Regions from separate parts of the Homo sapiens genome. Here region 1 is linked to region 2. Evidence: fine-mapped expression QTL. A gene starts in region 2. The other region holds a variant in brackets. All regions are shown on one strand. Distances are between the middles of the regions. Region 1 has its middle 63 kb from the start of LDOC1. Region 2 holds the start of MAGEC3 (MAGE family member C3).

The links. PIP is the estimated chance that this variant, and not a neighbour inherited with it, causes the effect. A credible set is the group of variants that fine-mapping cannot tell apart.
Region 1: its variant is the best candidate, but not a certain one, in a credible set for the expression of MAGEC3 in cerebellum (GTEx, PIP 0.58).

The regions. Positions count from the first base shown.
Region 1 is chrX:141,111,410-141,116,796 of GRCh38, reverse strand. No RefSeq gene overlaps it. Among named protein-coding and RNA genes, the nearest start is that of LDOC1, 63 kb to the left of the region's middle. The variant G/T (reference allele first, on the strand shown) is at 2,913.
Region 2 is chrX:141,835,981-141,841,367 of GRCh38, reverse strand. MAGEC3 (MAGE family member C3) reads right to left here and starts at 3,052. Exons shown (of 8, transcript NM_138702.1): 1 at 2,930-3,052. The coding sequence starts at 3,052.

The DNA.
Region 1 (5,387 bases), 720 kb after region 2:
TTTTTGTGTTAGCATTGGTAGCTTGTCTTTTCAAGGTATTTGTCGTTCATTTCAGTTGTTGCATTTATTTGCATAAAGGTTTTTATGACATTCAATTGTTATCCACTTAATAGATGTGGAACTTTAGTGATGGCACCTCTAGCATTCCTAATGTGTATGTTTTTTCCAGATTGATCTGGCTAGAGGTTTATCAGTTATATTAATCATTTCAATGAACTACCTTTTCATTACATTGATTTTCCTTAGTATATTTTTGTTTTCTATTTCATTCATTTTTGCTTCAGTTTTATTATTTTCTTTATTCTGTTTATTTTGGATTTAATTTGCTCTTTTGTCTTATTTTCTAAATATAGAAGCTAAGGCCATTGTTATGAGACCAGTCTTTTTTGTCTCACTCTGTTGCCCAGGCTGGAGTGCAGTGGCACGATCTCCATTCACTGCAACCTCTGCCTCCTAGATTCAAGCGATTCTCTTGCCCCAGCCTCCCGAGTAGCTGGGATTACAGGCGTGCACCACCATGCCTGGCTAATTTTTGTATTTTTAGTAGGGATGGGGTTTCACCATGTTGGCTAGGCTGGTCTCGAAATGCTGACCTCAAGTGATCCACTGGCCTTGGCCTCCCAAAGTGATGGGATTACAGGTGTGAGCCAATACACCCGGCCGAGACCAATCTTTTATGATGTAGAAATTTTAGTGCTATGAATTTACCTCCAAATATTTTTAAATCTGGGTCCCACAAATTTTGGTAGTTTGTCTTTTCATTCTCATTTAGTTCAAAATATTTTCTAATTGTATCTTATTCTTTCCTTGATCCATATCCTCTCCAGAACTATGCTATTTAGTATTAAATTACTTGGGAACTTCTTAGACATTTTTTTCTGATATTAATTCCTAGTTCAATTTCATTGTGGTCAGAGAATGTACTTTGTATGGCTTCAATCATTTTACATTTATTCGACTTGTTTAATGATCCTCTATCTGGTTTATCTTGGTAAATGTTCTGTGTGTGCTTGAAAACACTGTGTATTCTACTGTTGTTGTGTCATGTGTTCTACCAAAGTCAGTTAAGTCAAGTTGTTTGATATTGTTTTTCAAGTCTGTATATTTTACTGATTTTTTGTCTGCATCTTTTATCATTTATTAAAAGAAGAATGTTGGCATATTTGACTATAATTGTGAATTTGCCCATTTCTCCTTTAAGTTTTGCTATTTTATTCAATGTTGACTTTGAAGCAGTGTTATTTTGGATACCTAAATATTAAATATTTAAATTCTTATATTTCCTTGGTCAATTCTCCCTTTATCAGTTTACAGTGTCCCTCATTTTGCATGTGATATTCTTGCCTCTGAAAGCTACCGGATCATATTATACAGGTATTCTAGCTTTGTTTTGAAATAATGTTTCCTCTTTGCATTTAATGTGGAAATTACTCTTCTAATGTTTTCAATGTTACAGGTAGCTTTAATTTGCTAAGGTGGCCATAATAAAATACCACAAACTGAGTGGCTTATACATCATGTATTTGCTCACAGCTCTGGAGGCTGTAAGTTTATTATCAAGGTGTTGACAGGGTCGGTTTCTTCGGAGGCCTCTCAGAATCTACCATGTCTCTTGCCTAGCTAAATCAGTGATTTTCTGGCGGACACTGGCATTTCTTGGCTTTCAGAAGCATCATTCCAATCTCTGCCTTTGTTTTTATGTGACATTCTCACTGGGTCTATGTCCAAATTTCCCCTTTTTATTAAAAGGCCAGTAGTATTGGATTAAGTCTTGCCCTAATTACTTCATCTTAGCTCATTACTTCTACAAGAACCTTGTATTAAAATAATGTGACATTCTACAGCACTGGGGGTTGAAACTTCAACATATTAATTTGGGGGAACAAAATTCAACCTGTAGTGTTGGTATTTTCTTCTCAGTGTCTAATCTGCTATATATCCCATTCAGTTTATTTTTCATTTCAGACCTGTAATTTATATCCATAGAAGTTTGATTTTGGTATGTTTTATATCTTTCATATGTTTACTTAACATGTTCAACCTTTCCTCTTATTTATTGAACATATATAATATAGTTAGAATACCTGTAGCTTTTTTTTTTTTTTTTTTTGAGATGGAGTCTTGCTTTGTTGCCGAGGCTGGAGTGCAGTGGCACTACCTTGGCTCACTGAAACCCCCTCCTGGGTTCAAGCGATTCTCCTGCCTCAGCCTCTCGAGTAGCTGGGACTACAGGCGCCTGCCACCACGCCCGGCTAATGTTTTGTGTTTTTAGTAGGGACGGGGTTTCACCGTGTTAGCCCGGATGGTCTCGATCTCCTGACCTCGTGATCTGCCCGCCTCAGCCTCCCAAAGTGCTGGGATTACAGGCATGAGCCACTGCACCCAGCCGTCTGTAGCCGTTTTAATGTTCTTGTCTACTCATTCTATAGGTGCCATTTTCTGGTCTCTTTCTATTGAATGGCTTTTCTGCTCTTATTTTCTTTCCTTCATGCGTGATTGGTAACTTTTTATTTGATGTCAGACAATGTGGATTTTACCTTTTTGGTGGTGTTTTTCTTCTCCTAATATTATTTTCACACTTAAATCTGAGATGCTTTAAATTTACTTGGAAAAAAAAAACATTGATTCTTTCAAGGCTTGTTTGTAAACTTCATTAGACAGAACCAGACTAGCTATTAATCTAGGACTATTTTTCTTCCACTACTGTGGCGATACCCTCTGACGAACCTACCTAATATCATGTGAAATACAAGGCTTTTCACTCTGACTTGTGGGAAAAAGAAATGTTTGAGCTCTAAGAATTGTTTTTTTCTGCTGTTTACAGATAGTTGCTTCTCCAGCTTCAGTTAGTTTCCTCACATTCATGCACTGATTCATGCTCAACTAAAGCTGAGAAGGACCTTCAACAAATC[G/T]CTGCAGTTATCTTATTTTTTGTGCAGCTTTCTTTTCTCTTGTATTCTTCCCTGAAAATTGTAGCTGTATTTCCCTTTTTGGACTCCTAGCTCTGTCTTCTCAACTTAGGGAGGCCACTGGATTCCATTTAGGTTCTCCGTTTCTTTTTATTTTATTTATTTACTTATTTGTTTATTTTGAGATGGAGTCTTGCTCTGTCGCCCAGGCTGGAGTGCAGTGGCCAGATCTCAGCTCACTGCAACCTCCGTCTCCAGGGTTCAAGCAATTCTCCTGCCTCAGCCTCCTGAGTAGCTGGGACTACAGGCGTGTGCCCCCACACCTGGCTAATTTTTGGATTTTTAGGGGAGACGGGGTTTCACCGTGTTAGCCAGGATTGTCTCGCTCTCCTGACCTTGTGATCCCCCCACCTTGGCCTCCCAAAATGCTATGGGATTACAGGTGTGAGCCACCGCGGCCGGCCTGAGTTCTCCCTTTCTATGATGTAGCCTGAAGTCTCCTTTCAGACAGTAAGCCAGGACAATCGTAAGGGTTCACTTTGTTTTCCCTCTGTAAGGAATTATTTTCTCACACTACCTAATTTCTAACGCTTAAAAAACATTTATATATATATATATGTATATAGTCCAGTGTTTTTAGTTGTTTCTGCCAGGAAGATAACTCCATTACAAGTTACCCCATCTCAGCTAGACAGTTCCTAAGAGAATACATTATTGGCCGGGCATGGTGGCTCATGCCTGTAATCCCAGCACTTTGGGAGGCCAAGGCAGGTGGATCGCCTGAGGTCAGGAGTTCGAGACCAGCCTGATCAACATGGAGAAACCCCGTCTCTACTAAAAATACAAAATTAGCTGGGCGTGGTGACACATGCCCGTAATCCCAGCTACTCAGGAGGCTGAGGGAGGAGAATCACTTGAACTCGGGAGGCAGAGGTTGTGGTGAGCTGAGATCACGCCATTGCACTCCAGCCTGGGCAACAAGAGTGAAACTCCGTCTCGAAAAAAAAAAAAAAGAATATATTATTATATAACTTTTTATTATGAAAATAATATTTTCTTATAAAAATTTCAAGCAGTGCAGATGTATATACAGAAAAACTTGCATTTCTACCATTCTCTCCACCCTCTATTCTCCCAAAATTCAACTGAATTACTGGTCCTCAAAGGAAACAGCTTGCAATTGGTATGCTCACTTACAGATAATTTTATATTCATTTAAATATATATACAAAGATTCATAATATAGTCATATACATATATGCAAATATTAAAAATACATAATTATATATTTTTTAAACAGGGTCTTGCTCTGTCGCCCAGGCTGCAGTGCAGTGGCATATTCTCAGCTCTCTGCAGCCTCAACCTCCCAGGCTCAAGCAATTCTCCCACCTCAGCCTCCTGAGTAGCTGGGACTACAGGCATGAGTCACCACACCTGGCTCTTTTTTTTTTTTTTTTTTTTTTTTTTTTTGTAGAGAAGAGTTCTCACTGTGTTGCCCTGGCTGGTCTCGAATTCCTGGACTCAGGCAATCCTCCTGCCTCAGCCTCCCAAAACGTTGGGATTGCAGGCATGAGCTGCTGCGTTTGGCCTACATAAATATTTTGACATAAATGAGATATTAAGTACTTTTGTAAATTAATTTTCTTGTCTAATTCTGTATCTTTGTTTTTCCTCTATATTTGCCATACATATCTATGTCAATATTTTAATTGTCTGCATATAACTTCATAGTATGGATACATCATTTTTAAATGTAGGTATTTCTCTATTGATGTACAAATGTTTTTCACCAGTTTTTCTGTTTAACAAATGTTACAATGAACATTTTTGAATCATATGTTTTCGTGCACATGTGTAGCATTTCTAAAAGGAAAATTCTTAAAAATTTAATGAGCATTTTAAAGTTTGCTAGAAATTGCCAAAATATCCTGCAAAGTACTTGTACTTTGTTCTAACAGTATTAGGATTTCCTATTCCCTCATGATTTTTGTTGTCAATCCAATGGAAGAAAATTGCTTCTTTGTTTTAATTTATATTTACTTTACGAATAGTAAAGTTGAATATCTTTTGTTATCTATTTGTAGTTATTAATCTGTGAATTGTTGCCATATTTTTCTATTGGGTTGTTTGATTTTTTATTTATAGAAAAAATTTGTATAGTCATTTGTTTGTTATACATATCACAAGTATTTTCTCCTAATCTCTTCTTTATATTTTAACTTTGTATAAGAAATAATTTGCCGTATAGAAATAGTGCTGGAAAACATGTCTTTTGAGAAAGAACATACCTTGTTCTATTTTTTTCCGCTTTTGAAAATTCCATCTCATCCACCAGCTGCAGGACAAATCACTGAACTAAATGTTTAACTGGTTTTGAGAAAGAGAAAAACAGCTTCTGACATTCACAAGCTATGCCCAGTTGTTGCTAGGAGCTGGCTTGGCACTCACAGCTAGGCCTTGGTATTACTCTATCAGGAA
Region 2 (5,387 bases):
ATGTAAAATACGGCAATATGTTTGCGAATGTCATGAGATTTAACTCAGGTGGTCAGGAAATTCCTCTTTAAGAAGATGCAATTTGTTTGGAGACCTGAAATATCCAAAAGGAGTCTTTGGATTTGATAATTAAAATGGCTTTGATGGTCTTGCAAAGTACAGCTTTATTTGAGTGGTAGAGACAGGAGTCAGAGAGCACCAGGTTGAAGAAAGAGTGACTGGTAAGTAAGAAGAGACAGACAAGAAGCTTCACTCTTGTGAGGCTTAAGTGGAAAGAAAAGAAGAAAGAAGAAAAGAAGTGAGAAGGAAAAGCAGAGTGAAGTTATTATCACATTATTTTTTACAATTCACCTTTAAAGTGGTTCCTGATGCTTCCTCTTACTTAAATTTTTATTTAATATTAAACATATTTATAAACTATAGTTAATTAGCCAGTAGAAAGGCAGATGTTGAAAATACAGAAAAAAAAAGAAGCAGTGGAGCAAGGTCCATTCTCAATCCCCTTGAATAGAACAATTTATTCATTAACTATTTACTGAGCATTTTTGTGTTTGTTTTGTTTTTGTTCTTGTGGGGTTTTTTTTTTTGATGTGAAAAACACACAAAAGCATAACTACCCACTGACCAATTTTGCAGGAGGACTCATGCTAATGCTAATACATCAGGCTGAATTTTAGACAGAATGGTTGAAGAAAATAAATGCTGAACAGTCCACTTTAATATGGCAATTTAGTGAGGAGAGGCACTCTCTCCCATTTAGAGACACAAGAAAATATTGCTTCTGTGAAAATCTTCTTAACATGGAGATGTTAGTAATGATGCCAAATTTATGAAATGTTCTTAAAGAGGTCTGAACAAAGTTTGCTACATAGAACAAATTCAAAATAATATGTAATTATATGTTTTTCCAATATCATATACTTTTGAAAAATGCAAAATCTTGTGCTAAATGTAACTTTCACTTTCTTAAATCACTTTTATGTCAATATTCTTATGAAAATATTTCTTAAAATTAAATGATATTTTATGACCTGATATTCTCTACTTGTCATTTATTTAGATTGCAAGCTAAAAACTAATTAGAAAGACTATACTTTTGCTGTTAACTTTCTCAGAGGTAAAATATCACTTTTCTTTAGTGGTTTGTGATGCTATGAATGAATACTTTCCAGGTTGGGTATTTCCTGGCTGTTAAATATCAGTTAAGTTTTGGCTGACTTCACCTCCATCTATCAACCTCCCTGCCAATCATTTAACAGCTATAGAATAGGTCTCCTCACACAAATCCTTCAGGAAGAATTTCCATTGTGCACATTCTGACCAGAAGAAAAAATGCAGCAAATTTTTGGAAAGTGAATCATTTTTAGAGTTCTGAGCAAATTATGTTAAACTCAGGGTTTCTCACTGTCAGCACCATCACATTTTAGGCAGTATAATTCTTTCTTGTGTGAGGTCGTCCTTTGTCCAATAAGACGCTTAGAAGCATCTCTGTCTCTGCTTATTAAATACCAGTAGCATTCCCTGCTGCCACCAATTATGACAACCAACAATATTTCTAGATATTGGCAAGTATCCCCTAAGTGGCAAAATCTCTTCCAGTTAAGAACCACTGAGTTAAGAACAGTAAGTAATGATCCAGGGAAAATGGATATAAAGATATTAAAAAGCTAGTAAAGCATTTGACATATTAGAAATGCATATAAACAATTCATATTTATAAAATAAAATCTACTGAAGATATAATGAATAAACACTTGTTTTGGTGAGCAAGCTTGGGATTGCAGCTGTGGGCCTGGAAGTGGTAGGAGCTGCAAAGCCTGCCCAGGATTAGCTGTAGCCAGAGCCGGCAGCCAAGACAATAGCAAAGATCAATTTGACCTCAAGATATAATCAAATATGACAGCAGAGTGAATGAAGCTTTTATTTTGCTCCGTTCTTCTCCATAATCCTTCTTATGCCCATAATCATTATAATTACATAAAATATTTAAAAACCTTTAAAAATTATTTCTTGGAAACCATGAATATGGCAGACTAGAGGCATTTTGTACTCACTTTCTCCATTAAAAATAACCAAACGGTGAGTCGATAATCACACTTTGAATATATAATTCAAAGGAAATCACTGGAATCCATTAGAAAAGTGATAGGCAATACTTAAAGCAGAGATGGAGAGGGAATCAAGGCAGCCTGCTCATCCAGGATCAGCTGTGAGCTGAGAGACTCCAAATACAGAGAAAGGATAGGTGAGAGAGCCTCAGTAGTTTACATTCTCACTATAGACTCCTATAATCCCAGCCACAGGAGATCCCTTCAACCATCATGGGCCCCGAAACTAACATAGAAAGCTGCCAGGAGATTGTATGATGGCACTGCTTCAGGGAGAAAGCTCCCGCTGGGTCCCTCACACTTCTTGAGACTTAAGCAGCTACAACAAAGTACCATTTTAGAGCCCTGCCCTCAACAGACTGAGCACTGTCCTGGAGCCCAGTAGCCCAGGGCTGAGGTGCAAGAGAAGCACGAACTGCTGCCCCAGGGACATAGGCATCAGTGACTACAGACTACAGCATCTGGTGCAGAGGTGGGACGAAGGCGTGGGCTGCTGCTTTTAGGACTGAGGCACAAATGAGGCACCACTGCAGAGCCTCACCCCCGATGAACTACATACTGTCCTGGAGCCCAGTGGCATTGAGGCCTAGGTGCAAACTAAATGTCTGATGTTTCCCTGGAGATTCAGACATGAGCGACCACAGGCTACTGCAACCAAGGGAAAGACATGAACATCAAGGCTGGGCAAGATAGCATCTTAGAGCCTCACCCCCAACAGACTGCACACTGTCTTGGAGCCAAGCAACACTGAGGCTGAGATGCAAAAGAAGAGCTGGCTGTTAACCTGGGGCTTAGACATGAGCATTCATGGGCTACCACACCTGGGGCTGAGGTGGGAGCACCACTGGGGATAAGGCATATGTGGCACATGTGTTTTTCACCCACTGGCCTAGACTGCCATCACTGAAGGTGGCATCCAACACCCAGTGGCAGGGCAGCAGCATGGCCACTGCCACCCTGTCTTTACCAAAGAGATAGAGACCATAAAAAAGGAACGAACAGAAATTCTGGAGCCAAAGAATGCAGTGAATAAACTAAAAAATACACATGAAAGCTTCAACAATATACTCAATCATAACTGACTTATGTTAAGATCACATTTTGCTTGAAGACAGTTTTTTTTGAAATAACGCTGTCAGACAAAAATAAAGAAAAAAAGAAAATAATAAAATAAACCTTTGGAATCTATCTAACAACATAAAGTGACCAAATATAAAAATCACTGATAGCCCAGAAGGCAAAGAGAGAAAACATGTTTTCAAAGACCTATTTATTGAAATAATAGATGACACTTCCTAAGTCGAGCAAGACACTTAGACATTGAGATACAGGAGGCCCATCAATTCCTAAACAGATACAATGTGAAAAGGTCTCTTCCATAGCACATTACAGACAAAATATTTAAAGTTTTTTTTTTCTTTTTTTCCAAGATGGCAGATTGGAAGCATTATAAGCATACTTATCCCACTTGGTAAGACAAAATGGCATGTAGAGATTCATGCTGTAAAATTTATTCGAAGAAACAATGTAAGAACTTAACAGAAAAACTGAAAGAAACCACAGACCCTTTGAATGAAGTGGCAGGCAACAGACTACATCATAAAACAGATGGAAAACCATTAGTCCCCAGAGCATGAGAGAGGGATAGATTGCTGTCATGACATATACTCCCACAGGCGAGCCAGGCAATACAAGTCATGAGGGAGGACTTCAAACCTACTCAGCTCTAGAGGTGATTCAGTGAAAAGTAAGGAATATATAAGAAGGAGCAGCATCGGGACATGCTTTGTGTGCAGACCCAGATTCCAGCAAGAATGGAGGGAAGCCATTCCTGATCCCACCTCACGGGACGTTGCAGAAGTCTAACTCAGGCTGCAGTCACAGTTTGAGAGAAGAGCCCAACTGGGATTTGTGATATAATCCTTAGTAAGGACAAAGCTGATTGGCCAGAACCGAGGGGCAAGTGAGAAGTGTGCTACGGCAACAAGGCACATGAGCTGCATGGCCCTGCTTCACAGGTGGACTGGAAAGGATGCAGCCTGAAAGATATGGTTTCTGTGTCCATAGGGAAAGCTTATGGCCTGGGATGGTTTTAAATTCTGAGCACGGGCCACTTGAAACCCAGTTAGCTGCTGCTGCTAGCAGAACACTGTGGGTATGAAAACTGACTTGCCAAGTGTGTGGGAGCTGAGTGGGGCTTATTACAACCTGCTGCCTCCCACTTTTCAGGCAGATTTTTTGTGCAGCAGAGGCAGCTGTGTTCCTGCCTGGAACATTACCCCACCAGCCAGGGAACTGCCCTCGGATCCCCACTGGGGCCACTGCTTGCACCTGCACATGGGGAGCCAGAGTGCAGACTTGCCTGACTCAGTTTAATAACTTCTGAGGCACAATGAAATCATCCCAATGCCTCCATGTTCAATTTCAGGCACTAACAAGTCCCTGAGGTATTAAATGCATTGCTTTTCTGCGGTCTTGCCACCTTCAGGAGCTTACTAAGAAAATGAAGAAGAGCCACGATCACTCCTCTCAATTAGCCTCTTCCCTTGGCTGAGAAATGTGTTTCCGGTCTTGAGAACACAGAAGTTTTGCATTTGCTCATGAGAGATCTGAAACCTTCTGACACTGCCCTGCATCTTTTCCATTCCCTCTAAATAGAGAAGACTCTTCTCCTGTCTCCTACCTTCTGCTCTGACATCCATTCACTAACACCTAGGCACAAAAAGCCTAGTTCACCCAATGGCAGAAACGGCTAAGGTGGGCCTCTTCCAAGCTATGAACAACATTTCAAAGCTTAAGTCCCTACCCTCTTCCAACACAATGTCCTTTTCATTCCTCTAGCTCAGTAGTGCTCAGATTGGGGGTGATTTTGCACCCCATCCCAAGAAGACATTTTGCAGTCTGGAAATATTTTTGGTTGTCACAACTGGGATGGCTCTTGGTGCTATCGGCATCTATTGAATAGAAACTAGGAATGCTGCTAATCATTCTAAATTCAGCAAGATGACACCCCCTCAAAAAAGCCCACAGAACTATCTGTCTCAAAATGTCAATAGTAATAAAGGTGAAAAACCCTGTAGCTCATTCCTTAATAGGCCACCCAAAGAGATTTTGGATGTTTTCATTTATAAAATTATGCATATATTTTGGCAAATCAACAGCTGTTTCTCACCACTGATGGTTAGACAAGGGAAAGAATAAGGAGACTGATATTATAATGAGCTCATTCTATGCCAGGTACAGTGCTCAATACTTCAGATTTATATTATCACATTTAAT